Homo sapiens: one gene and its partner. The protein of the gene in region 1 interacts with the protein of each later gene in a biochemical or structural test. Each region holds a gene or a part of one and is shown on either strand. Other genes may lie near its edges.

Region 1 (7,397 bases):
CTACTCCATGTATCCTTCCACCTGAGGCTGGGGTGGGCGGGGAACGCCCAGGGCAGAGCTGGGGAGCCACTTCACAGTGAGCTGTTTGCCTCCGCTCCCCACCACCGCAGCCAGGCTGGGACACAGGGTGGGCTGTGCACGGGTTGGGCAGCCCAGGCCCCAGCAGCCAGGCCCCTCGCCAGGACCATGTGGCGATCAGCGGCAGACCCGCCAGTCTAAGTCCTGGTGAGTGGTGGGCAGGGGGTGTCACCAGAGGGCCAGGGCCAGCACTGAGGCCTCCCTGTTGGACTGCTGGGATCCCCTCTGCCCGCTCCTGTCAGTCATCCCCCTTGACCGGCCCCTCTACCTCCTCTGCCCCATCTCAGCCCTGCCGCCCAGCCGGACCTTGCGACAAGGAGCACTGGGCAGGGTGGTGGGAGGGAGGGCGTGGGCAGCCCCGAGTGCCAGACCTGTTGGAACCTCCCGTGGCTGCCTCCTGGCTCTGTGACCTCAGGCAGTGGCTGCCCCCGACCTTTTTTGAGACAGGGTCTCGCTCTGTCCCCCAGGCTGCAGTGCAGTGGTGCAGCTGTGACTCATGGCAGCCTCCACCTGGGCTCAGGCCACCCTCTTACCTCAGCCTCTGGAGTAGCTGGGACCACAGGCACACACCACTGCACCTGGCTTTTAAATTTTTTGTAGAGATGAGGGTCTCACTATGTTGCCCAGGCTGGTCTCAAACTCCTGGGCTCCAGTGATCCTCCCGCCTCAGCCTCCCAAAATGCTGGGATTCCAGGCATGAGCCACCGTGCTCGGGCCCCTCTCTGTGTTGTCTTCAGTAAAGGGAGTTCCCTGTGGCCCCTCAGGCTGAGCTGGGCTGTTCCTTAACCACATGGCTTCAGTGTGGCGGGCGTGTTTGTGTGCCTGCTGGAGTACCCCCGGGGGAAGAGGAAGAAGGGCTCCACCATGGAGCGCTGGTGAGTCTCCTCCTGCTCTGGGGTCTCTCCGGGGGCTGCGGGGCCCAGGCAGGGCTCACAGGGTTGGGTGGAGCTTGGTTTCTCACTTGGAGGCTCCGGAACCAACCCTTTGGTGCTTGTGGGTAAACCAAGGCCGGTGCCTGCCCGGTGTGTTTTGTGGGAGGAAAGAGGCCTGGGTGCCCTGGGGTGGTCAGCAGGGCAGCAAAGGAGTCCCGAGTGGGAGAGGCCCAGCCGCGCCGTCTCGCCTTCCTCCCTCCCCCAGGGGACAGAAGTACATGACCGCCGTGGTGAAGCTGTTCGGGCCCTTTACCAGGAATTACTATGTTCGGGCCGTCCTGCATCTCCTGTGAGTCCCCGTCCCGCACCCCCTCTAGGGCTCAGGAGGGCTTGGAGCCGACCCTCCCCACTGTCCCACCGGCCGGGCTGCCTGGACAGGAGCCACCCCCACTTACCTCAGTGTTTTTCCAAACAAAAATTCGGGTCCCTGGCTCTGGCAGGGCCTGTGTCTGCTGTCTAGTGTGCAGGATTTGTAAGGATCCACTCCAAATCCGAGGAGCTCCGATCCGTCGCCAGGGTCTGGGGTCAGCATGCACTGCTGGGGGGTCTTGCCTGGGCTTCCTGGTAGGGTGGAGGGTTCCGTGCTGTGTGTCTGCTGGTTACTGCCGGCTGAGGCCAGGACACCCACACGTGGCTGCTTCCTCCGAGCAAGTGCACCAGAGCCGCTAGTGTCCACATCAAGGCTGAGAACACCCAGGACCGAAACAAGCCCCGGTCCGCGCACGTCCCCTGGGTCTGCAGTCTGCCTTGTCCTGAGACTTTGTGGCCTTGGCCCCCAGACCTGGGGCTCCGTTCCCCTTTCTGAGTGCCCTTCTGTGTCCCTGCCTCTCACCCGCTGTCCCCCAGGCTCTCGGTGCCCGCCGGCTTCCTGCTGGCCACCATCCTTGGGACCGCCTGCCTGGCCATTGCGAGCGGCATCTACCTACTGGTGAGTGGCGCCCTCTGAGGTCGGCCCCGGCCACCCCCATCCCCAGCCCCTGCCCTGACACCCTCGGACACGCATGGCCCTTGAAGCCGGCTCTGTAGGCTGAGCCAAGGCTGGGAGCAAGTGTGAGCCTGGGCGTGTGCTCACAGCACGGCGGGGACGCAGCGGTTGCTGCTGCCATTTTTGGCGTGTCTAGTGTGTCGGGTCATTTCCTTGCATTTCCTCATTAACCCGCACCACAGCCCTGGGAGGGGTACTGGGGTCCCCACTTTACAGACAAAGATGCGGAGGCTCAGGGAGGTGCTGTGACTGGCCTGGGGTCACGCAGCCGGCCGAAGACCGTGCCTGCGCTTGGGTCCCATTATCAGGCTTTTCTCACCTAAACCCTATTCGCGCTGATTCATGGGCGGTGCCAGGACGCAGACATTTTCTTAAACTGCCGACACCTGCGTTTGGTTTATGACTGCTGCACCCTGTTAGAAGGCTGCCCATCCCATGGGATACAGTGATCTCTCTGAGAGGCCAGGGATGGGTGGGAGGACAGGGCGCAGCCTGGCCAGGCCTTGGGTGAAATGCCCTCTGCCTGCCCTGGGCTCCGGAACAGACGGCTGCAGGCCACCTCTCACTGCGGGGGTCTCTGGGTGGACAGAGCCCTCAGACTTTGCTTATTTAAATCCTTTTGTCCATAGAGCCAAGTCCCTCCTGCCCGCAGAGGCAACTGCCCTCCCCTTGCTGTGCGTCTTCTAGTGTGTGTGCGTGGGAAAGGTGCAGCACTTTCTGTGTACGCCTTCCGCGTATGGAAGTGGAGTTCTGTTTCAAGCCTCACTGACCTGCCACCGGCAGAACTCTCCTTTAGAACCCCTTCCTGTTGCCAAGTGCTCATCTGGGCTGTTGCTTTGTTTTCCGGGGGCCACCCGCATCCCCCCCGTCTCCCTGCTGCCACGCACAGCTAGTGGCTCCTGGAGACCTCGGGAGGAATTCCTTGTGCTAAACCCAGAGAGGAATTGCTGGGTCAGGCATCAGCCTCTGCACCGTTCACCCTGCCGGGCTCAGCTGCTCCTCAGCAGACAACCCACCACCAGCCATGTGGCCCCATCTCTCCCACCATGCACTAGGCTTTCTCCCACGCTTGCCAGTTTCACAGCACGAGCTGGCCGTGTGGAGCTTGGACTCGCCCTTCTCTGACTGTGGATTTGAGCTGTTGGAGTTTCTTCTCCCTTGAGTTGCCTGTTCAAATCCTTTGCCCATTTTTCTATTGTGGTTTTTGTATTTTTCTTTTTCTTCTTTTTTTTTTGAGATGGAGTCTCGCGCCATCGCCCAGGCTGGAGTGCAGTGGCGTGATCTCGGCTCACTGCAACCTTCGCCTCCTGGGTTCAAGCAATTCTCCTGCCTCAGCCTCCCGAGTAGCTGGGACTACAGGCACGTGCCACCATGCCTGGCTAATTTTTGGTATTTTTAGTAGAGACGGGGTTTCACCGCGTTAGCCAGGATGGTCTGGATCTCCTTGACCTTGTGATCCGCCCGCCTCGGCCTCCCAAAGTGCTGGGATTACAGGCGTGAGCCACCGCGCCCGGCCTGATTGTCTTTTTCTTAAGTTGCAGGAAGTCCACATATATTTTAGCTATTTAGCCTTTGTAACCTTTAAACACTGGGGATGCCTTCATGCTTTCTGGTGAGGGTCTGTTAACTTGGCGCGTGGAGTCCTTCACTGCACGGAAGAGCAGAGGTTTCCCTGTTCACCTGCTCTATGGTCTGTGCTTTGTGAAAACACCTTTCCCTGGCCCTGGGTCCTGCCTTCACGTTCCTGCCTTTTCTTCTATCAGCCTTCTAGTTTTGCTTTTCAGAATGGAATGTTTCCGTTTTGGAGTCAGGTAGGATCACACATGTCCAGTTTCTCTTTCTGTTCATGACGTATATGATGTGACATATTTTTCCACCAGATATTATGGGATAGAAGATGAAAAGCACACACTCCCAGGTCCACTTGACCTGTTGCAGTGGAACCTCCGGGCATGGGCCCAGGAGTCTGTATTTTTAGTAAAAGCCAGTGGAATCCCGTGGTCTTCAAGCTCTCCCCCCACCACCCCCATGTGCAGAAATGCCTGGGCACCCTTGGGGGGCTGCCGGCCAGCGTGGGTGAATGGCGCCCACCAGACGGAGCAGGGCCTGCTACTCTCCTGGGCCACCCCTCCTGCTGGACCTCGGGCCTGCCTCCCTGCCTTCCCTGCCCTTGGCACCTTGAGAGGAGAATTTGAGTACTAGAATTTGCATCTGGGAGTGTCCACCACGGGATCTTCCAGAAGCCCAGGGGTTCGGGCCCCACTCCTGGCATGAAGAAATAGCTTGGGCTGGTGTCAGGCCGACCCAGGTCCTGGCTGTGTGGCCTCGGGCGCGTCACTTAACCTCTCTGAGTGGCAGTCACACCATCCTGCGTGGGATTCAGACTTGAGCCTGTCCCAGGGCCCCTAGCGGGGTGGGCCTCCGGGGAGGGAGGGAGGGAGGGAGGGCGGGCGCTGGGGCGCGGCTCAACCCTTCAGTGCCCCGCAGGCGGCTGTGCGTGGCGAGCAGTGGACGCCCATCGAGCCCAAGCCCCGGGAGCGGCCGCAGATCGGAGGCACCATCAAGCAGCCGCCCAGCAACCCCCCGCCGCGGCCCCCGGCCGAGGCCCGCAAGAAGCCCAGCGAGGAGGAGGCTGCGGTGGCGGCGGGGGGACCCCCGGGAGGTCCCCAGGTCAACCCCATCCCGGTGACCGACGAGGTCGTGTGACCTCGCCCCGGACCTGCCCTCCCGCCAGGTGCACCCACCTGCAATAAATGCAGCGAAGCCGGGAGCGCGTGAGCCTCTGCCTGGGGCCGGTGGGCGGGGCTGGGGTAGCGATGGTTCCCGAGGCCTGGGCAGGCACCCCGTTTCCTGCCAGCCGGGCCGCATTCCAGTTTCATTAACATCAGCATCGCCTTCCTTCTCAGCAGCACACGAAATCCCGGGTACCGTATATTCCACGAAATATAGTACCTGGATTCCAGGTGTGTGCCTCCCTAGAAAGGTCCTCCCGGGCCTGGAGGAGGCAGCAGAGTCCTCCCTTGACAGCTCCTGCAGGCCCTGCAGGCCCTCCACACCTAACGCCTCCCTAAGGGGCTTGGATTCCAGAGGAGGCCGCTGGCGTTAAGTGAAAAGGGAACAGGGTCGGAGCCACGTGGTGAGCCTCTACCCTGCGCCTCTTTTCCGTAGAAGCTGGGGTGAAGCTGGTGGCGGATGTGGCCTTGTTTGCCCCCACACTGATGCTGGGGGGCCCCCCAGCTGCCCAGGACGCTCAGGCCAAGTTGCAGGGGCTTCTGGCCACCCCTTCCCCTCACTTGTGCGGAGGCTGTGGCTGGCTGCACACACACCTGCCCACAGGTCCTCACCACCACCCCAGCCCGGTGCCCCCAAAGCTTTGCCCGGCGTCAGCCACGTCCCCCACCTTTGGGCTCTCGCCAAGGCACCCACTCCCCTGAGGCCGGAGAAGCCCTTGCCTGCTGCTTGTCCACCTGCTCTCCCAGCAACTCACACTTCAGAGCCAGGGTCCTCTGTTCCTGGGGGCCTTCAGAATCCACCCCCCACCAGCCAACACTCGGCACCATACAGACGTCTCAATCCAGCCTCATCTCAGCCGTCCCCCCAGGTCACCAAGCTTCAGGTCACCCTTGAAACCCCCACACCCCACATCCAATCCTGGCCCAAATCCAGACCCCAGCTACATGGGCCATCCCCACCCAGGCCACCTGCCGCCTCCCGCTCTGCCCTCATCCCCTGAAACCATCCTGATGCTGCCATTGAAACCCAAAGCCTCACCCCAGTGCCTCCGGCTCAGAATCCGCAGGCTCAGAACCCACAGGCTCAGCTACCTCCAGTGACAGCCACAAGCTTCTGATGGCCCCAGGGCAGACATGATCTGCACCCCCAGCGCCCTGCCCTGCCCCTGCGGTCCCCCTCTCACCTGGCATCAGCCACGCAGGCCACTCTCTGACCCTTGGACACACGCAGCATGTGTCTTCTCAGGGCCTTTGCATGGGCTCTTCCTGCTGCCTGGAGCTGTTCCCTGCATGGCTGCCTGGCTCCTTCCTCCTCCCCTTCAGGTCTTCGAGGCCTCCCTGACCCTCTGCTTAGAACTGCAGCCCCTTGGCCGGGCGCGGTGGCTCACGCCTGTAATCCCAGCACTTTGGGAGGCCGAGGCGGGCAGATCATGAGGTCAGGAGATCGAGACCATCCTGGCTAACACGGTGAAACCCCGTCTCTACTAAAAATACAAAAAATTAGCCGGGCGTGGTGGCGGGCGCCTGTAGTCCCAGCTACTCAGGAGGCTGAGGCAGGAGAATGGTGTGAACCCGGGAGGCGGAGCTTGCAGTGAGCCGAGATCGCACCATTGCACTCCAGCCTGGGCCAGAGCGAGACTCCTCAAAAAAAAAAAAAAGAACTGCAGCCCCTCCCCCAGAGCCTCTGTCCTGGACTCACTCACAGACTACACACCACTTGTTTCATTAGTCACCGTGGAGGCAGGAAGGGTTTTCACCATTTTGTTCTCGGCCTGTTCCCAGTGCCAGGTGCTTAGTAGAAACTCATATGGCTGGGTGCGGTGGCTCACGCCTGTAATCCCAGCACTCTGGGAGGCCGAGGTGGGAGGATCACTTGAGCTCAGGAGTTCGAGACCAACCTGGCCAACATGGCGAAACCCCGCCTCCACTAAAAATACAAATATGAGTTGGGTGTGGTGGTGCACGCCTGTACTGGGAAGCTGAGCTGGGAGGATCGCTTGAACTCAGAAGGTGGGGGTGGCAGTGAGCTGAAGTCATACCACACTGCACTCCAGCCTGGGCAACAGAGCGAGACCCTTTTTCAAGAAAGAAAAGAAACTCAATAAATGTGTTGAATGAAAATTCCATCTCCTGGACAAGGGCCACCACCTCCAGGAAGTCTTCCCTGAGGCCTCTTGCTTTGGGAGTCTGAGTGGAGTCCTTGTTCTTCTGTGCAGCACCCCCACCCCCATCTCCAGGCACCTGGACGCAGTAGGTGGGTGAGCCAGGGGGCCAGGCAGGGGAGGGGCTAACAACTGCCCAGCAGCCCCATGGCAATGTCAGCCCTTGGGGCCGGGGGCCTAGAGACTGAGACCCTGAGACTGTCACAGGCCTGGGCCCCCTTTCCACGACTGGGGCTGCTCCCCCCGGGGCCCCTTAACTAAAATCTCCAACAGAGCCTGGGTCCCGAAGCGTGGCTAGTTCACCATCAGGGAGGGCGCTTGGCCTTGGATGTTGATCCGAACCACGAAGGCTGGGGGCCCTGCCTTGAGCCGACAGCCCTGCAGTTCATCCTCAGAGACTTGCCTTGGGGGCCGAGAGGGTGCCCCTAGGCGCTCACATCATTACAAAGCATAGGGCTCAAGGCACTGCTTGAGGAAGGAGGCTGGTTCCTGTTCCCAGGGGTGTCCT
Region 2 (17,389 bases), about 87 Mb from region 1:
CCCTGTCTCTACTAAAAATACAAAAATTAGCCAGGCGTGGTGGCGGGCACCTGTAATCCCAGCTACTCTGGAGGCTGAGGCAGGAGAATTGCTTGAACCCGGGAGGCAGAGGTTGCAGTGAGCCGAGATTGCACGACTGCACTCCAGCTTGGGCGACAGAGTGAACCTCCATCTCAAAAACAAAAACAAAAACAAACAAACAAAAAAAACAAGGGGTCTCGCAGCATTTCAGAGAACCAGACTAGTGGGATACGTGGTGGTGGGGACCTATGGACCTGGAGCCCCCAGAGCCTGGGGGTCAGCCTGGCCTCTACCTCCCCGTCCCCTCCTGTGGGGCCCTGGTGCCTCTCAGATACCAATCCCTGGCACCAGAAGGGAAGGGGTAGAAATGATTCCAGGAGCGTCCAGGTCACAGTCAGCTCAGTTACAGTCTTTATTGTAAAGAAGGTGCAGTCGGAACATGGGACACTGAAAATACACAATCTCTGGTCTTTCAGGAGAGGGAGAGAGTGATATATACAAAAATTGTAAACATGTTCACTTAAATATCCACACAGAATTGGTCTAGGCTACAATGTAACAAGGTTGTCACTCAACTGCATCTCCAGAGGGAGGTGTCTGTCTGATGAAATGTGGCAACCACGTTTGGTGTTGACTTAATGTGAAAAGCCAGCTTTGAGCAATGCATGAGTAGTCAGCTATGCAGAGGGACTCCAACCTGGGACTGGGCCAGGAAGCAGGGTGCAGGTGGAGAGGCAGGGACTGGGCCAGGAAGCCAAGGTAAAGGGAACCACACAGGGGCCATCTTGTGGGGCACGGTGGCCAGCTGGAGCCTCTGGGCCTCTCTCCTGCTGAGGGGCTTGTCTTGCCTGGCACCCAGGCATCCTTCTCCTCTCCTGGCAAGGTCTTACTGAAGGGCTAGGACAGGGCTGGTGTCTTGGCCCACAGCTACCTTGTGCCTTCCTGGCCAGAACCACCCACACCTGGGCAGGGGCCGGGGCCACAGAGAGAGGAGCAGCTTGTGGAGTACTAGGAGGTGAAACCCGAAGACTGGACCATGATCACAACACTGACAGGGCTGGGCTGTTCTAGCAGCCTGTGAGAGAAAGTGGAGAGTGGCTCCGGACGGGACGCACCACCATGACAGAAACGAGACAGTCACTACCCACAGGGACATGGGATGGGAACAGTGGCCAGGATCCCCAGTCTTGGGGCGAGGGTGGTGTCTTTCCCCTGCCCCCGCTTTGTCCTGGGCAGCCCCTGCACCTGATCGTAGAGGGCAGCTGGACCCCCAACCCCAGAGTGAGCAGGTGTGGCCCAAGAGGGGAAAGCCTTCCCCAGGCCAGTCCATTCCAGGCTAGGGACACACGTCCTGGGCAGTGCTATCCCCTTCTCAGGACCTCAGTCCTGGGGCCAGGTGCTGAGGGACTGGGGGAACTTGGCAGGGGCAGCCCAGACACGCGGGTCCACCCCCTCTTGGCCCCGGATGGCGCAAAGCGGCCACCTACTCTGTCCGCGGCACTGAGCTGGAAGGACCCAAGGGAGGTCCCGGAGACCCTGGGGCCTGCGTTGGTGGGGTGGCCTTGGAGCCCTGGTCTGTGCCTGCCAGCCGCTAGTAGGCGGGCACCTGGTACCCTTTGGGGCTGGTGTCCAGGGTCTCGGTGAAGGGCGGGCTCTGGTAGGTCTCGGTGCCCTCCACGCCGCTGCCCACCGGATAGCCGGGGTAGGCCTGGCTCGCCCCGGTGCTCAGCTGTTCGGTGGCGAAGAGTGACATGTCGGTGCCCAGGCGGAACCGCTGCAGGGCCTTCACGGTGAGCGCCACCTGCGCGGGGCGGGGTCAGCGGGGTCAGCCGGGATCAGCCGAGCGCCCGCCCCTTCGCCCCGCCCTCCCGGGCCCCGCACTCACCCAGCTGAGGATGGAGAAGAAGCTGAAGGCGATGGCGGCCCGCGCCGCGTCCCCCGCCTGCGTCGTGGCCGGCCCTGGCGCCGTGCGCTGCCACTGATTGGTGAGGAAGCAGAAGCCCACGAACCACAGGAAGGACCAGAGTCCTGCGAACAGTGCGGCGCGTCAGGGCGACGCTCCACGCGGTGGCCCACGGCGGCCTCGCCCGGAGGAGGAAAGGTCGGTGGGCCCGAGGCTTGGGGCGCCTCGCCTGGGCTCGCCGCGTGGCGCGAGGTCCCGCCTCCCTCTCCTGCGCTGACCCCGCCCACCCGGGAGCGCCAGACCCGTTCCGCGCCCAGGCTCCGCCCAGACCCGGGCCCCGCCTACCTAGAAAGTCCCGCGGCGCTCCCCGTCCAGGCTCCGCCCCCTCCCCGCCCACCCGGGAGGCCCATTGACACTCCCTGCCTCAGTCCCCGCCCCTCGTCACGGCCACGCCCAGCTGGAAACTCCAGCGGTGTTCCCCGCCCAGGCCCCGCCCCCTCCCCGCCCACCCGGAAGGCTCTCCGCGCTCACCGCCCCGGCCCCGCCCACCTGAGAAGCCCAGGTCCAGCAACACCGCGCGCCGGCGGTCGCGGACGCTGCTGATTTGCTGGAAGCGCACATCGAGCAGCAGGAAGGCGGCGCAGGCGAGGAAGGCTCCGAGGCCCAGCGCGACGCCGAAGCGGCAGGCGCCCGCGTTCCCGTTGAACACGCAGCGCAGCTCGGGGCCGCTGTCGGTGTTCACGTAGCCCTCGTTGACGATGGGCCCGAAGACGGCGATGGAGAACACCTGCGTGCGGCGCGGCGCTCAGGGCCCTGCGGCGACCCGACCTCTGCGAGCCCGCCTCGAGCGCCCACGCCCCTGGGCCTGTCCCTGCGTTCCCAGGCCCGTATCTGGGTGGGGGGCGGTGTCACCTCTTTCTTTCCCGAACCCTCGCGTATTTAGTAATTATTGACAACACGGGCCGTTTAGTGAGCATCTACTATGCCCAGACATTGTGTTAAACAGCCACTTTACATGCGTCCCCTCACCAAATCCTCAGAAAGTCCCCGTGGGATCGCCATTGTTCTTATTCTCTTTATAAATGCGGGGGACATTGGGACCCCAACAGGTGAAGTGACTTGTCCGGGATCACATGGCTGACAAAAGCCGGGGTTGATTCAAGCCAGGTACTCTGCACCGCGTGGGCCCGTGGAGTCCCCTCAGAGCCCACTCAAGAGTGTGGGAACAGGAGCCTTCACCTGGGCCCGCGATTCCCAGGCTGGAGCCGGAACGGCGAAGGGGAGGTGAGAGTGCAGCAGGCAGAGCGGGGCGGGAGGGAGGGTATGGAGGCAGCGGAGCTGTTGCTTCCTGCGCGGTTGGGAACTGTCTGGCCTGTTTTCTAGCATGCAAATAGGGTGACGGGCACAGCTCATGCAGTGCTGGGACAGACATGTCCACCCAGCTTCCTGCACGTGGTGGGTACCCGAGGGATGACAGCCCCCACGTGACTGATTATTAATATCACCTGTAAGTGTTTGGGCTGAAAAGATGACACCGTTGACCTCTGAGGTTCCGTCAAACCTCAATGCCTCCTGCCCACCAGTTCCGGGAGACAGGCATGAGGGGGACCGCAGTCATTTTAACCAGCGCTGCACGGGGCAGCCCTGTGTTTCCAAGAAACGACCTCCAGCCTCAACCTCATCCCTTCGCTCCTTTCCCGCTCCAGCTCCGAGAGTGGAGCCAAGGGGGAAGCCGGGACATGCACTTGTCCCCAAGAGTGGGCCACAAGTCGGGACGTGCGCTCGGACCAAAACGCAGCGTCCTGCCTCCCGGTCTGGTCAGAGCCACTCCGCAGGGGAGGCCAAAGCCCCTGCCCCACCGTGGGCACCGCCCTCCTCCAAGACAGGCGCCGAGGTGCGGCTGGCCCAGAGGTTGCCACCTGGACAAAACCCAGAGCTCGGCACCCAACTGCCACCTCCCCTGCCGGAGGGAAGGAGCAGCAGGGCCCTCCCAGGGACGCCCCAGTGGGCTAGGCTGCTCCCAAACCTGCCTTCCACACCGCCGCCAGGAAGCCCTCCCAGCCCAGAGCCTCTCCTCCCTCAACTCACAGCTGGAACTGGGGGCCAGGGGACAGGCTCCCTGCCAAGGAGACCCGAGGGTGTGTGTGCGGGGGAAGGGGAGGCGCTTCTCGGTTCCCGTAGCCCCCTCCTGCCCCTCGGAGAATTCCGTCCCCACCCCGTCCCTGCTTCCAGGTCACGAGAACAGGAAAAACGGAGTAAGGGCTGCGGAAAGGGACTGAAATTAGACCCGGGGAGGAGGTAGGGGTAGAGGCGACCGGCGGTGACCTCTCAAGGTCCCTCTCCGGCGCCGCCGGCCCCTCCTCCGCCCGCAGGTGGGCGCGCCCTGCCCGGTGACGTCACCCCAACCTGAGGCCGGCGGGGGAGGGGCCGGCGAGGATGAGAGTGAGTGAGGTCGGGGGGCGAGAAGCAGGGGGCAGGGGGTAGGGGGCAGGGGGCTGGTAGGGGCCTGAAGGTCGCGAGGCAGGGGCGGGAGCGGGGGCCCGGGCAGGGACCACTCACCCAGGACGCGACCCGGAGCAGGGTCTGGGGCCGCCGCGCAAAGCTCACGGGGTCCAGGGCGGCCCCTGCGCGGCCCGCGCCGAAGGAGGCGCCCTCCATGGCCGGCCCGGGCGGGACGCGCGCCCCTGGCGCCTTCTGTCCGCCTGTCCGTCCGGCCGGCCCCGCCCGAGGCCGCTGCCGCTGCCGCTGATGCTGATGCTGATGCTACCAACGCTGCAGCCGCTGCCGCCTCCCGGGAGCGCGCGCCGGCCGCGGCGGGGACGCGCGGGACGGGGCGGGGCCGCGCCCGCGCCCCCCACTGGGTCCATGCGCGCGGGGCCGGGTCCCTCCTCTCCCTCCGCCGCGCCCACCTCCCATCCCCCACCCTCACCTGCCTGCCCCGGTCCCGAGATGGAGACCATCCTCAGGAACCCACCAGCCAGGTCCCCGGGGGCAGGGTGGGGCTCGGGTGCTGGGCGCAGACTTTGCTAGAGCCGGGAGGACAGACAGGAGGAGTCCGCTCCTCTGGGAAGGGCACTTGGGTGAGGGAGTAAAGGGGTAGGAGGTCCACGGGCTGCAGCATCTTCCCCCAACCCACGGGAGAGGGGACCGGCTCCCTGGCCCTGGTCCCAAGAAGACCAGATGGATAACTGGGGTCTTTCTCATGGCCCCCCACTGTGCTCTAGCTGCTATCACAGCTTCTAGCCTCTGGCGGGGAGGATCTGGTGGGAAGAAAGGCGTTGGCCCCAGGAGCACCTGTTGAGGGAGGGGACAGAGCCACCGTGGCCAGCGCCGCTGGGAGTGTTGGTTTCGGTGTCTCCGCTCCTTGCCCGTGGCCAGGTGGTGGTGCTCCCAATGCCCTCCCTACTCCTGGGTCTCCCCAGCGTACTTGCGGCGCCTAGTCTGGAATGGAGGGCAGGGAGCGGCATCAGAGACTAGGAGTCGGGTGGGGGTGGTGCCTGGCTGCCCTGTGTCCCGCTGAGTCCCCTCCACAGACCCCAGCCTTGGGTGCAACAAGGTCCCTCTCCTCATGTTCCTAGCAGGCTGGAAGTTCAGATGACTCCTAGGTTTCTGTCTAGAGCACTGAGATGTCTGCACTGACATTTACAGCGCCAAGCGCTTGACCTGTGTAGTGGCGGAGACTGTTACCACCCTGTACTTCAGATAATAAGCAACCCAGGTCCCTGCTACACGAGCCGGGTGCACAGATGGTGCTGCGTGGCCCAGCCCCCCTGGAGCTCATTCTTCAGCCTTGCTGGGCACAGGTGGGCAGAGCAGGTGTTGCCAGAGGCGCTACTCACTGTGTTCCAAGTCCATCACACTGTGCGTCCGATCACAACCCCTCTCACCTGTTGGCCACAGACCTCCCCTCTGTGTCATTCATTCTCTACTTCATCACTAACATCAGCACCCAGACATGCTGCACTTTCTCCTAAAAGCCAAACACTGTTGACCCCACCTCCCCTCCAGCTGCCTTACGTTACTGCTTCCTTTAGCAGCAAACTCTGCCTGCAACACCCTCCTCTCTCTCCCTCTGACCCGGCAGAATCAGCTCCCACCGCCACCTAAACTCAAGGTTGCCACTGACCTCTCCGTGCCAATCCCAAGGGCAAGTCTGATGCTGCTGTCGACTCATTTATTTCTTTAGTTATTTATTTATTTTTTGAGTTACAGTCGCACTCTGTTACCCAGGCTGGAGTGCAGTGGCGCAATCTTGGCTCACTGCAAGCTTTGCCTCAGGGGCTCAAGTGATTCTCCTACCTCAGCCACTGGAGTAGCTGGGATTCCAGGTGTGCCACCGCACCCAGCTAATTTTTTTTTTTTTTTTTTTTGTATTTTTAGTAGAGACGGGGTTTCGCCATGTTGACCAGGCTGGTCTCGAACTCCTGACTTCAAGTGATCTGCCCACCTTGGTTTCCCAAAGTGCTGGGATTACAGGCGTGAGCCACTATGCCCCTCCTGGAGGTCCTCCTCCCTCATGGGTCCTTCCTCTGTGACCTGTGAGCCTTAGGAGCCCAGGGCGCGATCCTGGGGAGGTCTCTCCCTCTGTGCTAACTCCTTTGGTCTGCGTGTCAACAGCTCTGGAACACCAGCTCAAGCCAGAACTTTTCCTTGCACTAGAGTTCCACTGGCCTGGATGCCTTCAAAAACAGACTCTGGCCTGGCGCAGTGGCTCACGCTTGTAATCTCAGCACCTTGGGAAGCTGAGGTGGGTGGTTCATGAGGTCAGGAGTTCAAGACCAGCCTGGCCAACACAGTGAAACCCTGTCTCTACTAAAAATACAAAAATTAGCAGGGGGTGGTGGTGGGCGCCTGTGATCCCAGCTGCTCGGGAGGCTGAGGCAGGAGAAATTGCTTGAACCCGGGAGATGGAGGTTGCAGTGAGCCGAGACTGCTCCACTGCACTCCAGCCTGGGCGACAGAGCTAGACTCTGTCTCAGAAAAACAAAACAACAACAAAAAGAAAAACAGATTCTAAGGCAAAGTGAAGTTTTATTCAGGAGTGAAACTTTAAGGAAGACAGGGAAAAAGGGAAGGCGGTGGGGGGGGCAGGGGGGCAGGGGAGGGACAGCAGATACAGGCGGTATGTTCCTAAGCTGAACACAGCCTTCCCAGAGGGCCCAGCTGCTTCCTGAGGCACTCACAGGCCTCGGGAAAGGCCAGAGAGAAGCGCGCTGTGTCTGGGCGAGGAAGGGACACCTCCTCTCCTGGCTGCCCCCCATCTCCCCTCTCTTATTTGTGCCACCTGGCCCCTCTGGGCAGCCTCTACAGAAGCCAGCAGCCGCACGGGGCCAATCTGGTGGGGACATAGCAGCTCCCTCCATGGAGGCCTGAGGCGGCCATGCCAAGGTGGGCCTGCGCCCAGGGAAAGGCTGAGACTCCTGGAGGATAGAGGTCCCTGGAGTTTTATGACCACAGGACACACTGTTGCTGGGCTGCTCTGGCTGGGGAGGCCCAAAGGCTGGGTCCCAGTCACCCCCCACCTTGCTGCACTCAGCCTTCTCCATCTCTGACCCACACGGCGGCTCCCAGCAGTCTCCTCGGACTCCATCCTCACCCCATGAGTTCTCTGGCTCTCCCTTTAACGTACCCCGCATCTGTCCCCGCCGTGGGGTGGGTCTTCCTCTTGGTGGTCACTCGGTGACTGCCCCGGCTTCCTCCCCACCCCTCCTGTTCCACCCTTACCTGCCTCATCCCAGCTCAGCAGCCAGAGGACCCTTCAAAGCCACATCACTCCATGCCATCCCCTGGCTCCAAACCCGCCAAGAACTTCCTGTCAGGGGAACTAGGGGTAGAAGCCATGGCTTTGCTGGGGCCTTGGAGACCTCGTGCCGTCTGGCCTCCCAGTACTCCTACATCAGCTACTCTGGCCCCCCTGCCCCAACCAATCAACGTCCTTGCTGTTCCTGGCTCACTCTCACCCTGTGGTCTCTCTCTCCTGAGGAACCAGGACCCCAGCAGGAAATGCAGCTGAGCACAGAGGGATGGAACAAGCCCTGTCTACTGCTTTATTAAGCCCCAGCAGAAAATATACTGAAGCCAGGTTCTCAGTCACTTCAGCGTTTCATTTGGGCTTCAAACTCTGATGAAGTGAGCCCCACGAATCCCCTGTGGACAGGCATGACACAACGCTGGCAGGCATGTGCCAGGCAGGGAGAGGGTAGGATGGCTGGTGGACCCTCAGAAAGACCCGACCTGAGCTTTCCCTGTAGGGACTGAGCAGAGTGGAGAATTGAGCCCCCTAAAGTGAGCAGCACAGAGCCATGGGGGGCAGGGGCATCCCTGGCTGCATAGTGGGAAGGCAATGGCCTGGCCGCCAGGGACAGGCACAGGGATGCCCAGCCAGGCCCGCTGTCTTCCCGTGTGAGGAGTGAGGCGCCAGGGTATGCGGTGGGCAGGAAGCTACATCCTGAATGTCAAGGGGCAGCCCAGGCTGCTCCTCCTTCCCTCCCCTGCAGTTCAGCTGCAGCTCCTTGGGGTCTCCACTGAGGAGGGGGCCAGTGGGTACCTGCTGTGGGCACCTCCACTTCTGCTCCAAACCTAAGAGGGGCAGGGCAGGTCCCCACAGGCAGTGTCCTGGGGACCACCCAACTGAGACACAACAGGCTCTGGCTGTGATGCACTTTAATGAGTGCCCTGCCCCTATCCAACCATGCCTGGCTAGCTGTCCCATGAGCTCTGGCTGACCACCCTCTAGTCACAGGAGCCATCCTTCCAGCCGTCGCGCCAGCGCTCATCCACTTTTGAGCAGTCGAAGTCAGGCTTGCCCAGCTTGCGGTTCACTTCATTGTGCAGGTGGCACAGCCACTGTGTGAAGCATGCCCGGGTGCGGGTGTCTGGGTGGTTCCTGCACAGCCTGTGTAGGGAGAGCAGGTAAAGAATGAGAGGACGCAGCGGCTCCACTGCCCCTGCCAGTTCCCTGTCTGCTGTCAAGGAAGGAGAGCTGGGGCACTGCTGTGAACTACACCTGGGAGTGCCCTTATGCTCCAAGGTACAGGCACTCCCAGAACAGGGCTGACCCTGCAGCTCCCCGGGTGTGATGAACTCCCAGGGCTGCGCAAACACCCACCTGGACAGCTTGGCAAACTCCAACGAGGCCTCAAGGCAACACATTACAGCACAGACCTGGCAATTTTATAAGCTCCTAACACCCAGGAAGCGGCATCCAGTGTCCCTGGCCTCAGGCAGAGTGTGGCCTGGGTGGGGCTGGGCACAGCCTTGTAACTGAAAACTGGACTTGTTTCTTAGCATCTGAGGGCAGGCCCTGGTGCGTCAGTTCAGCAAGAGACTTCATTCTAACTGACCAGCCTTATAGCAACAATGGCGGCTCTACCCTATACATCTGGCCTAGAAACACCTGCAAGGGCCAGTGCTGGCTCTTGGATCCCTCAGTGAGGAAGAGATGGCTCTTGGGAGCAAAAGCAGTGGATTTCCAAGATTTTAAAACCAGAAGTCCTACTCTAGAAGTCAGGCAAAGTGGAGTCTTCCCTAACTTGCGGGAAACCGCCTTCAGTGCCAGACAAGGCAGGGAATCCCTTCCTGGAAGCCCTGTGGCTGTGGCAGGAGCAGTACCCAGCAGCAGATCCCGACAGCTTGGCTTCTGAGACGAGAGGAGGAGGCTCAGATAGCCCCAGTCCTCACCTGTTGGAGGTCCCTGCTCCTCAGCAAACTTCTGCCACCTCTGCATCCGTTTCTCTACGTTCCCCGCTATAACGTCAGCCAGGAGCCCCAGGCCCAGGCTCCAGTGCAAAGCTCTGCTGCGTGCAAACACATCTTACCTTTTTCTTAGGTCTTCAGCACACTCCTCACAGGGGTAAAACTTAGAAAATAAATGTATGAACTGGGCCATGTCTTGCTGCTGTTCTGGGGTGGGCAGGTCGGGGTAGTAGGCGGCCAGGGTGTGGAGGACAGCCCAGCTGTGGCGGCCCAGTTCCTCGCGATCCGGCGGGCAGTCCTCCCTAAACTTGGTGTCCCGCTGCGGAAGCAGGCCGACCGAGAGTGAGTTCATTCTCCGAACAAAGGCGCCCAAAGCTCCCCACTGTACGGCCCAGCCGGTGGCCCACTGGACTCCGGCCAAAGTCCTGCAGACGATCCAACCCACGCGCGGATGAAGGCTGTAAGGCCGGGCCTACCCGGGGGGCAAGGTTCAGGGACAGGCAACCCTGGGAAGCTCTGCCGGGGTACCTGGGCGGGGGCGGGGACAGGGGCTGCGCGGGGCTGGGAGAAATCGGGCAGGGAACTGCACCTTCTGCTGCGTCCGCATCCACGTCTTGAAGTCGACGCAGGCCCGGCACGGCCGCCTCCGGGAGGCGTCCTCGGCGACAGGAGAATCGGAGGTCGGCGCCTGGGCTGGCGTCGAGGCCGAGGCGGCCGCGTCTCTCCGCCCCGCGCCCCGGCCCCGCGCGTCGGTCGCCAGGTCGTCCATCATCTCGGAGCGCGCGCCCCCCGGCAGGAAGAAGAGGTTCCCGCCGTGGAAGCGGCCCCGCTCGCCGGGCGCCGCCATGTTGCCCGCGCAAGGCCTGCCGGGTCAGCTCGGCCTCCAGATGAGCCTCCAGGTCAGCCTCCAGGCCAGCGCGCGGCCACAGGAGCCGGAGGCGCGCGCCGTGCTCGCGGGGGCCGGGCCCGAGCCGGGGCTGGGGGCAGAGTCGGGGGCGGTGCCTGCTTGCGGGCCCGTGTGGAGGCGGAGCCAGAGGCCGCGGCGCTGGCCGGGCCCGAGGACAGGGGCGGGGACGGAGCAGGAGGGTCGGACCCTGCTGGCGCCCTCAGGCGTCGATCCGCGGCGCACGCAGGGGTTGCGCCGTCCGTGGCGGCCGTCCCGCTTTCTCCAGTAAAAGAGCAGTGTGTGGCGCAAGGTGCGCCTCGGCCGCGCTGTGGACCCGAGCTGACACCCAGGCAAAGTCCGTGTTGCGGCCCGCGACGTCCCCATCGCTCCGTTCTGAGTGTCCTGCGTGCCTGCGGCCAGGCTTTGTGCCCTCCGCTGAGGGGCGCGTCCACCCGCTGGCTGCCAAGCGCTCTCTCAACGCGGGCCGGGCGTGACCGCACAGATTGCGGCGCGCGCTAGGGTCCTGGGCTCTTGTCCCCTCCCTGGCGCCATGGCAACGGGCGTCTGGCAACGCAGGGCGCGGCGCGGCCGCAGAGGGTTGGCGCGTGCCTTGGGCTCCCTGGCGCCCCTCGCCGGCTGTCGCGGATCCTAGAGCCTGGGATGAGGGGTCGGGCTCCCGGTTGGAGCGGCCTCTGGGATTCCTGTGCCTCCTTGCGTTCATTTATCCATTCCGCTATTATTTGCGCAGTGACCGCTCTGTTCCAAGCGCTGTTCCAAGTGCTGGGCAGAGCAGGGAACACAATTCTGTTCCCTGACCTTCTCTGTTCATAATCCAGTGGTCAAGACAGGAAAAAAAAACAAGGACTCACACTCATAAATGTTCACGTACAAACTGGTGGGTCCATGCAAGGGTGTAGTAAATCTGGAAGGCCTCCTTGAGGAGGTGACCCTTTCTGAAGGATGAGGAATCAGCTGAGGAGCGCCTTCGAGACCAAGCCCAAGGTGGCAGGGTCTTGGCATTTTGCAGGAACAAAAACGCCAGTGGGACGCTAGGGAGGGTTGTAAGGTGGGAGGGGAGATCCAGGGACGGACAGGGGCCCACCAAAGACTTGGTCGGCAGCTTCGGGGATTGGGAATTTATTATAACGGTAGGAGGGAAGATGCTAGACAGTTTTGGGCAAGGTTACCCAATCTGATCCCATTTCAGTTTGCTGCAGATTCCGCTGGCTATCATATGGGGAGTGGATTTCTTTTTTTTTTTTGAGACAGGGTCTTGTTCCGTTACCCAGGGTGGAGTGCAGTGGCGCGATCTTGTTCACTGCAGCCGCGACTGCTTAGGCTCAAGTGATCTCCCACCTCAGCCTCCCAAGTAGACTACAGGCACACGCCACCACGCCCAGCTAATTTTTGTATTTTTGGGGGGCACAGATGGAGGTCTCAACATGTTGCCCAGACTGGTCTCGAACTCCTGAGCTCAAGCAATCCCCCTGCCTCGGCCTCCCAAAGTACTTGGATTACAGGTGAGGCACTGTGTCTGTCCTTGGAGTGGATTTTGTAGGGGCAAGTGAGGAGCATACAGATGGAGGGTGGGGTGTACTATTCAGGCAAGAAAAGAGGGTAGGGGAGGAAAAAGTGGAAACCATGCAGGGCTGATGGGGTGTGGGGCAGGAGCTGTCAGCTGGGGTAGGCAGGTGGCCTCAGAATCCCTCTAGGCCTCTGCTTGTGAATAAATCCTCCCCAGCTTCTCCTGTCTTCCAGGGGAGCAAGGTCTCCCCTGGGTTCACACGCTGGACCCCACCAGGTCAGCTGGGCCCTCAGCTGAGACAGGGAGAAGGTGACAGCTGGCTGGGGGAACCCTGCAAATCAGCCCTATGTGAGCAGGTGTTCATTGCCCATGCCAAGACCAGGGACAGCTTGAGGGCATGAGAGAGAGTGCTGGTGGGACAGACACACAAAGGCCCTTTGTTGCAGCCAGGGCAGCTTCCTGGAGGGATGCCTTAGAGGCTGACTGCTCCCTGAAGGGGCTGGAGTAGGTGCATCCCAACACAGAACTGGTGGCCCCAGCACGAGGAAAAACCACTGTGTGCCAGGGTTGAATGTGGCTTCCGAAGCCCGAACTATAAGGAAGCAGCCAGAGAGGTGGGGCACCTGGGCGAGCCTCTGCCCAGGCCATGTTTGCAGTAAGTCATGGCAAATCGTGAATTGAGAGGTGGTTCTCAAAACAGCCCTAGTGACCACTTCCCTGACCACCACCCCCACCCACCAAATGCCAGTGACTGCACAGATGGGCCCTCTTTCTCCTACCCCAAGTCTCCTCACTGCAGGGGAACCCCTGGGGTGAGCCTGTGAGGTCTGCCCCTCCCCCAGCATGTATAGAACAGCTCACAATAATTACGCATTTAACACACATTTCCTCCTCTATGAGTTGGGGACATTAAGAGACCTTTCCTCCAGCATTAGGATTAAGTCAGACAAAGCACTTAAAGCTGTAAGCACTGAGTCCTTGGTTCTGCACAGAAATCCCCAGGCCAGTTCAAAGTTGTTGGGCGCACCCTGGCAGGGCAATTACCTCACAGGGTAGGGGAATCCAGAGAGGTGGGCAGGACAGGTGGCGCTTTGATTAGCCCTGCCTTCTCCTCCCTCCTCCTGTGGCCAGAGGCAGGCAGGAGGGCCCCAGGCAGCAGTCCCGCCTACCCTTCGCCCCTTCTTCAGTCTTGCACGCCTCCAGGGCTGGAAAGCTCATTCTTCTTCTTCCTCCCAGCAGCTCTGCCTGGAAGTCCCCCAATCCCTGTGCTCCTGCCCCCAGATCGTGGGCTTGGGGGACAGCAAGAAAGCTGCAAAGGACTCAGCTGGGGCGGCTCCACAAGGACCCCACAGGCTTGAGGTGTTGCCAGGATTCTATCCCAGGGGGTTTTCTGGGTCCCCCAGAGCCCTCTCAAGCACGGGGAGGCAGAAGGGTCCTCGCCCATTTCAGGAATCTGCAGCCTGGAAGCCACAGCCATGGCAGGCCCCCGATACCCAGTTTCAGTGCAAGGGGCAGCCCTGGTGCAGATCAAGAGGCTCCAAGTAAGACCTGGCTGGGTCCTTAGTGGCCCCAAGGGATAGGAAGGGGGTGCCTGGACCAGCACCTCCACGGCACTCCCAACTTTTTGTCCCCCAGACGTTTGCCTTCTCTGTGCGCTGGTCAGACGGCAGCGACACCTTCGTGCGCAGGAGTTGGGACGAATTCAGGCAGCTCAAGGTGAGTGACCCTGGGCCACCCTGATGCCGCGGTGGCGGCTTCCCCACGCGGCTGCCTCCCACTGGACTGCCTCCCATCAGTGACTCCCACTGGAGGCCCTTCGTCCCTGCTGAAGCTCCCAGCCCCTGCCATCCGGGTGAGGGACCCCGCCCTCTCAAGGGTGCACAGTGGGCTCTGGAAGACCAATGCCCTGGTTCCCGCCCTCAGAAGACCCTCAAGGAGACCTTCCCGGTGGAGGCGGGCCTGCTGCGGAGATCTGACCGCGTTCTCCCAAAGCTTCTCGGTCAGGCCAGCCTGGGTACGGGAGCGGGGAAGGCGGTGGCTTGCCTGGGGGCGCCAGGGACCAGTGAAGCCCAAAGCGGCGTATCACAGTACGTTTTTGTGGTGCCTTAAGATGCACCACTGTTGGGACGCGTGGGGCGCACGAGCCGCGGCCTGGCGCGCCTGCAGCTGTTGGAAACCTATTCTCGGAGGCTGCTGGCGACTGCAGAGCGCGTGGCACGGAGCCCGACGATCACTGGCTTCTTCGCACCGCAACCCCTGGACCTGGAGCCCGCGCTGCCACCCGGCAGGTGCCTGACTCGCCCCAAACTCCCAGCATGCAGCGGCGTTTGGAGCTGGGAGAGGTCCAGGGTGGGGGGGAACAGCCAGCGAATAGGGGCAGAGAGTGGGAGGCTGGCGGTCTTGCCGGGGTGGCGCCCCCAGTTTCACCCTCCCCATCCGCCTACCTCTCACTCGTACGGGCTGCCCTTCCCAGCCGGGTGATCCTGCCCACCCCAGAGGAGCAGCCTCTTTCTCGCGCTGCGGGCCGCCTCTCCATCCACAGTCTGGAGGCTCAGAGCCTGCGCTGCCTGCAGCCCTTCTGTACCCAGGACACGCGGGATAGGCCTTTTCAGGCGCAGGCCCAGGAGAGCCTGGACGTGCTGCTGCGGCACCCCTCAGGTAGGGCCCCCCAAGAACCCAGGGATTTGCTCCTCTGCTCCTGGACCCGAGGGAGCCTCGAGATTTGAGTCCCTGCCCGCTTCTTGCGCACAGGCTGGTGGCTGGTGGAGAACGAAGACCGGCAGACCGCCTGGTTTCCAGCGCCCTACCTGGAGGAGGCGGCCCCGGGCCAAGGCCGGGAGGGAGGCCCGTCCCTAGGGAGCAGCGGTATGCGCCTAACCCCACCCCTCACGCCACCACTGCGGCTTGACCGTGTGGCAAGACTGGGCCAGAAGCACCGCGGGCAGGGCGGGCCAGGAGCCCGTGCTTGGTCTCCGCACCTAGAGGAAGCCCCGAACCGGTCTTAGAGCGGCCCCGCCGTCAGCAGACTCAAGCAAGGAGAATGTGGAGAAGGGTGCGGGCGGGCCTCGTCCTCTGTGGCCCCGCGGTGACTCCAAACACCCACTCCCACCAGGTCCCCAGTTCTGTGCTTCCCGCGCCTACGAGAGCAGCCGCGCAGATGAGCTGTCCGTGCCCGCGGGGGCGCGCGTGCGCGTGTTGGAAACGTCAGACCGCGGCTGGTGGCTATGCAGGTACGCGGGAGCGGGCGTGGGCAGGGCAGGCTAGCCGAGGCGGGCGGGGCCCTAACCACACCCCGCCCCTCGCAGGTACGGCGACCGGGCGGGCCTACTCCCCGCGGTGCTGCTGCGGCCGGAAGGGCTGGGCGCTCTCCTGAGCGGGACGGGGTTCCGTGGAGGAGACGACCCGGCGGGTGAGGCCCGGGGCTTCCCTGAACCCTCCCAGGCCACCGCCCCTCCCCCCACCGTGCCCACCCGACCTTCGCCGGGCGCCATCCAGAGCCGCTGCTGCACCGTCACACGCAGGGCCCTGGAGCGGCGCCCACGGCGCCAGGGCCGCCCTCGAGGGTGCGTGGACTCTGTGCCGCACCCCACGACGGAGCAGTGAGCGCGAGGATCCCGATGAGGGGATGGACCGCGCCATCCCAGGGCTGGGGAGGAGCGGGGAGGGCGGATCTCCCTGGCCAGCAGGGATGGGAGGGGGCCATTTGCTGTTCCTCTGAGTAAAGCTTGTTCTGCATGACCCCCACCGTCTAAGCGTGCGGAGCCGCGGGCTGGATCTCTGCCAGGCCAGGGTGCGGGATGGGCGTGGCAGGGCCGAGACCATCAGCTCCAGTGCCCTTCTGGCTGGCTAGGTAGGGTGTTGGCCAGGGTGGGGGGCTGGACTGCAGTCCAGAGAGACAGAGCCGGCCAGGAGAGCGGCCTTTATGGGTTTTCCAGGGGTTCAGGATGGACTGGAGAGAGGCCGGACCGGCTAGGGCAGTGCGCCTTTATGGGTTTCCCAGGGGGTGGGGGCGGCGGCCGGCACAGGGAGCTTCATGTTGTGCCACAGGAAGTCCAAGAAAGCGGCGGCCTGGAGGGTCCTGCTGAGCCGCTGAAAGTGCCGCTCTGGGGTTGGACAGAGGGAGGTCAGGGGGGTGGTCCACACGCCCACCAGGATCCCCCAACCCCAGGCTGTGCCCACATACCAGTGTAGGGCAGCAGGGCCTCAAGCGCTGCCCGCACGCCTTCGTAGGCCAGCAGCTCCTCGGGGGCCTCTCGCCTCAAGAGCACACCCAGCACGGCCTGGGCCTCGTGGCAGTGCCGCGAGTTGGTGTTCCACGTGACGCAGAAGCGCAGCAGGGCCTCTGTGGGCAACAGGACCCTCATCGTCTTGCCCAGCCAATCTGCCATGACTGGCCCTTGCCCACCGGGCCACCCACCCTGACTGGCCGCCAACCTTTCTGGTCGCGCCGCAGTCGGAGCATGGTGGCTTCCAGCTTCTCGCAGGCCTCAGGGTCCCTCCGGATGGCTGTGGGAGAAGGGAAGGCTGAGCTGGGGAAAGCAGAGCCCAGTGGTCCGAAGACCCAGCCCCTCGCCCCCCGGGGTGGGCACTGACCCTGGATGACAGTCAGCACGGTGTGGGGCCGATCCAGGGAGATGGCCAGGCCCAGCGCCCGCAGGTACCGCTTCTCATGCAGCAGGTTGTCCAGCTCTTGCTGCCTGTGGGGAGGGGAGGAGAGGCCACTGAGGGCCGCTGGCTGGGGCTGCAGGCAGAGCCATCGGAGTCAGCAGGCAGGGAGCCTGGCACTCAGCCTCGTTTTCCCTACAGCACAGAGCAGGGCTGATGCGGGGAGGGGCGCCACTGCCCTGGCCTTACCTGACCACCTGCTCCTCTTGCCTGGCCTGCTCCTCTGCCTGCTCCGCCTCGGTCACATCCTGGGGTTAGACTAGGGTCAGATGGGGCCTCCACTCCACCCCGACTCTTCCCTGCCCTTGGGGCCCACAACCTTCCAGAGGATGACTCGGGAGTCACTGGCCCCAGTGAGGGCGTGGTCGTCCAGCCGGCTGCAGTGCAGCCCCCAGACCTTGTCCTCGTGGGCATCCAGCGTCCGCACACACTCGTTGTTCTTGATGGTCCAGAGCTTCACGAGGCCATCCGAACCGCTGGGTTTGGGGTGGGGAGAGGCTCAGCGTCAGGCAGGTCCCCCCGCCACCCCCCACTCCATCGCTGCCCCACCCCAGCCCACTCACCTGGACAGCAGCTGCGTGCCACGGCTCACAAAGGCCACCTTCAGCACAGAAGCATCGTGCCCCTCAAATGTCTGCAAGGTGGGGGGTAGGGCATGAGATGTCACCAGGGCGGGAAGTGGGGAGGGTCTGGA

The links.
Region 2: the proteins of CYBA (region 1) and NOXO1 form a complex in vitro, tested with the Homo sapiens proteins (3 studies listed by IntAct).

Annotation. Positions count from the first base shown.
Region 1 is NC_000016.10:88,640,657-88,648,053, reverse strand, and holds the end of CYBA (cytochrome b-245 light chain), read left to right. Parts: coding exon 1-9; intron 10-878; coding exon 879-953; intron 954-1,215; coding exon 1,216-1,299; intron 1,300-1,856; coding exon 1,857-1,938; intron 1,939-2,624; coding exon of another isoform or gene 2,625-2,888; exon of another isoform or gene 2,889-4,482; coding exon 4,483-4,701; 3' UTR 4,702-4,765; downstream 4,766-7,397. UniProt on the Homo sapiens protein: Subunit of NADPH oxidase complexes that is required for the NADPH oxidase activity that generates, in various cell types, superoxide from molecular oxygen utilizing NADPH as an electron donor.
Region 2 is NC_000016.10:1,977,296-1,994,684, reverse strand, and holds NOXO1 (NADPH oxidase organizer 1), read left to right. Parts: upstream 1-13,215; 5' UTR 13,216-13,505; coding exon 13,506-13,571; exon of another isoform or gene 13,572-13,665; coding exon 13,666-13,746; exon of another isoform or gene 13,747-13,953; coding exon 13,954-14,029; coding exon of another isoform or gene 14,030-14,044; exon of another isoform or gene 14,045-14,140; coding exon 14,141-14,318; exon of another isoform or gene 14,319-14,503; coding exon 14,504-14,688; exon of another isoform or gene 14,689-14,781; coding exon 14,782-14,895; exon of another isoform or gene 14,896-15,142; coding exon 15,143-15,260; exon of another isoform or gene 15,261-15,335; coding exon 15,336-15,633; 3' UTR 15,634-15,768; downstream 15,769-17,389. Other genes in the region: SYNGR3 (synaptogyrin-3), read right to left, coding at 1,613-1,822, 1,907-2,049, 2,474-2,711, 4,484-4,582; GFER (FAD-linked sulfhydryl oxidase ALR), read right to left, coding at 8,657-8,819, 9,742-9,938, 10,209-10,466; TBL3 (transducin beta-like protein 3), read right to left, coding at 16,000-16,133, 16,214-16,372, 16,465-16,536, 16,624-16,727, 16,885-16,943, 17,015-17,171, 17,259-17,329. UniProt on the Homo sapiens protein: Constitutively potentiates the superoxide-generating activity of NOX1 and NOX3 and is required for the biogenesis of otoconia/otolith, which are crystalline structures of the inner ear involved in the perception of gravity.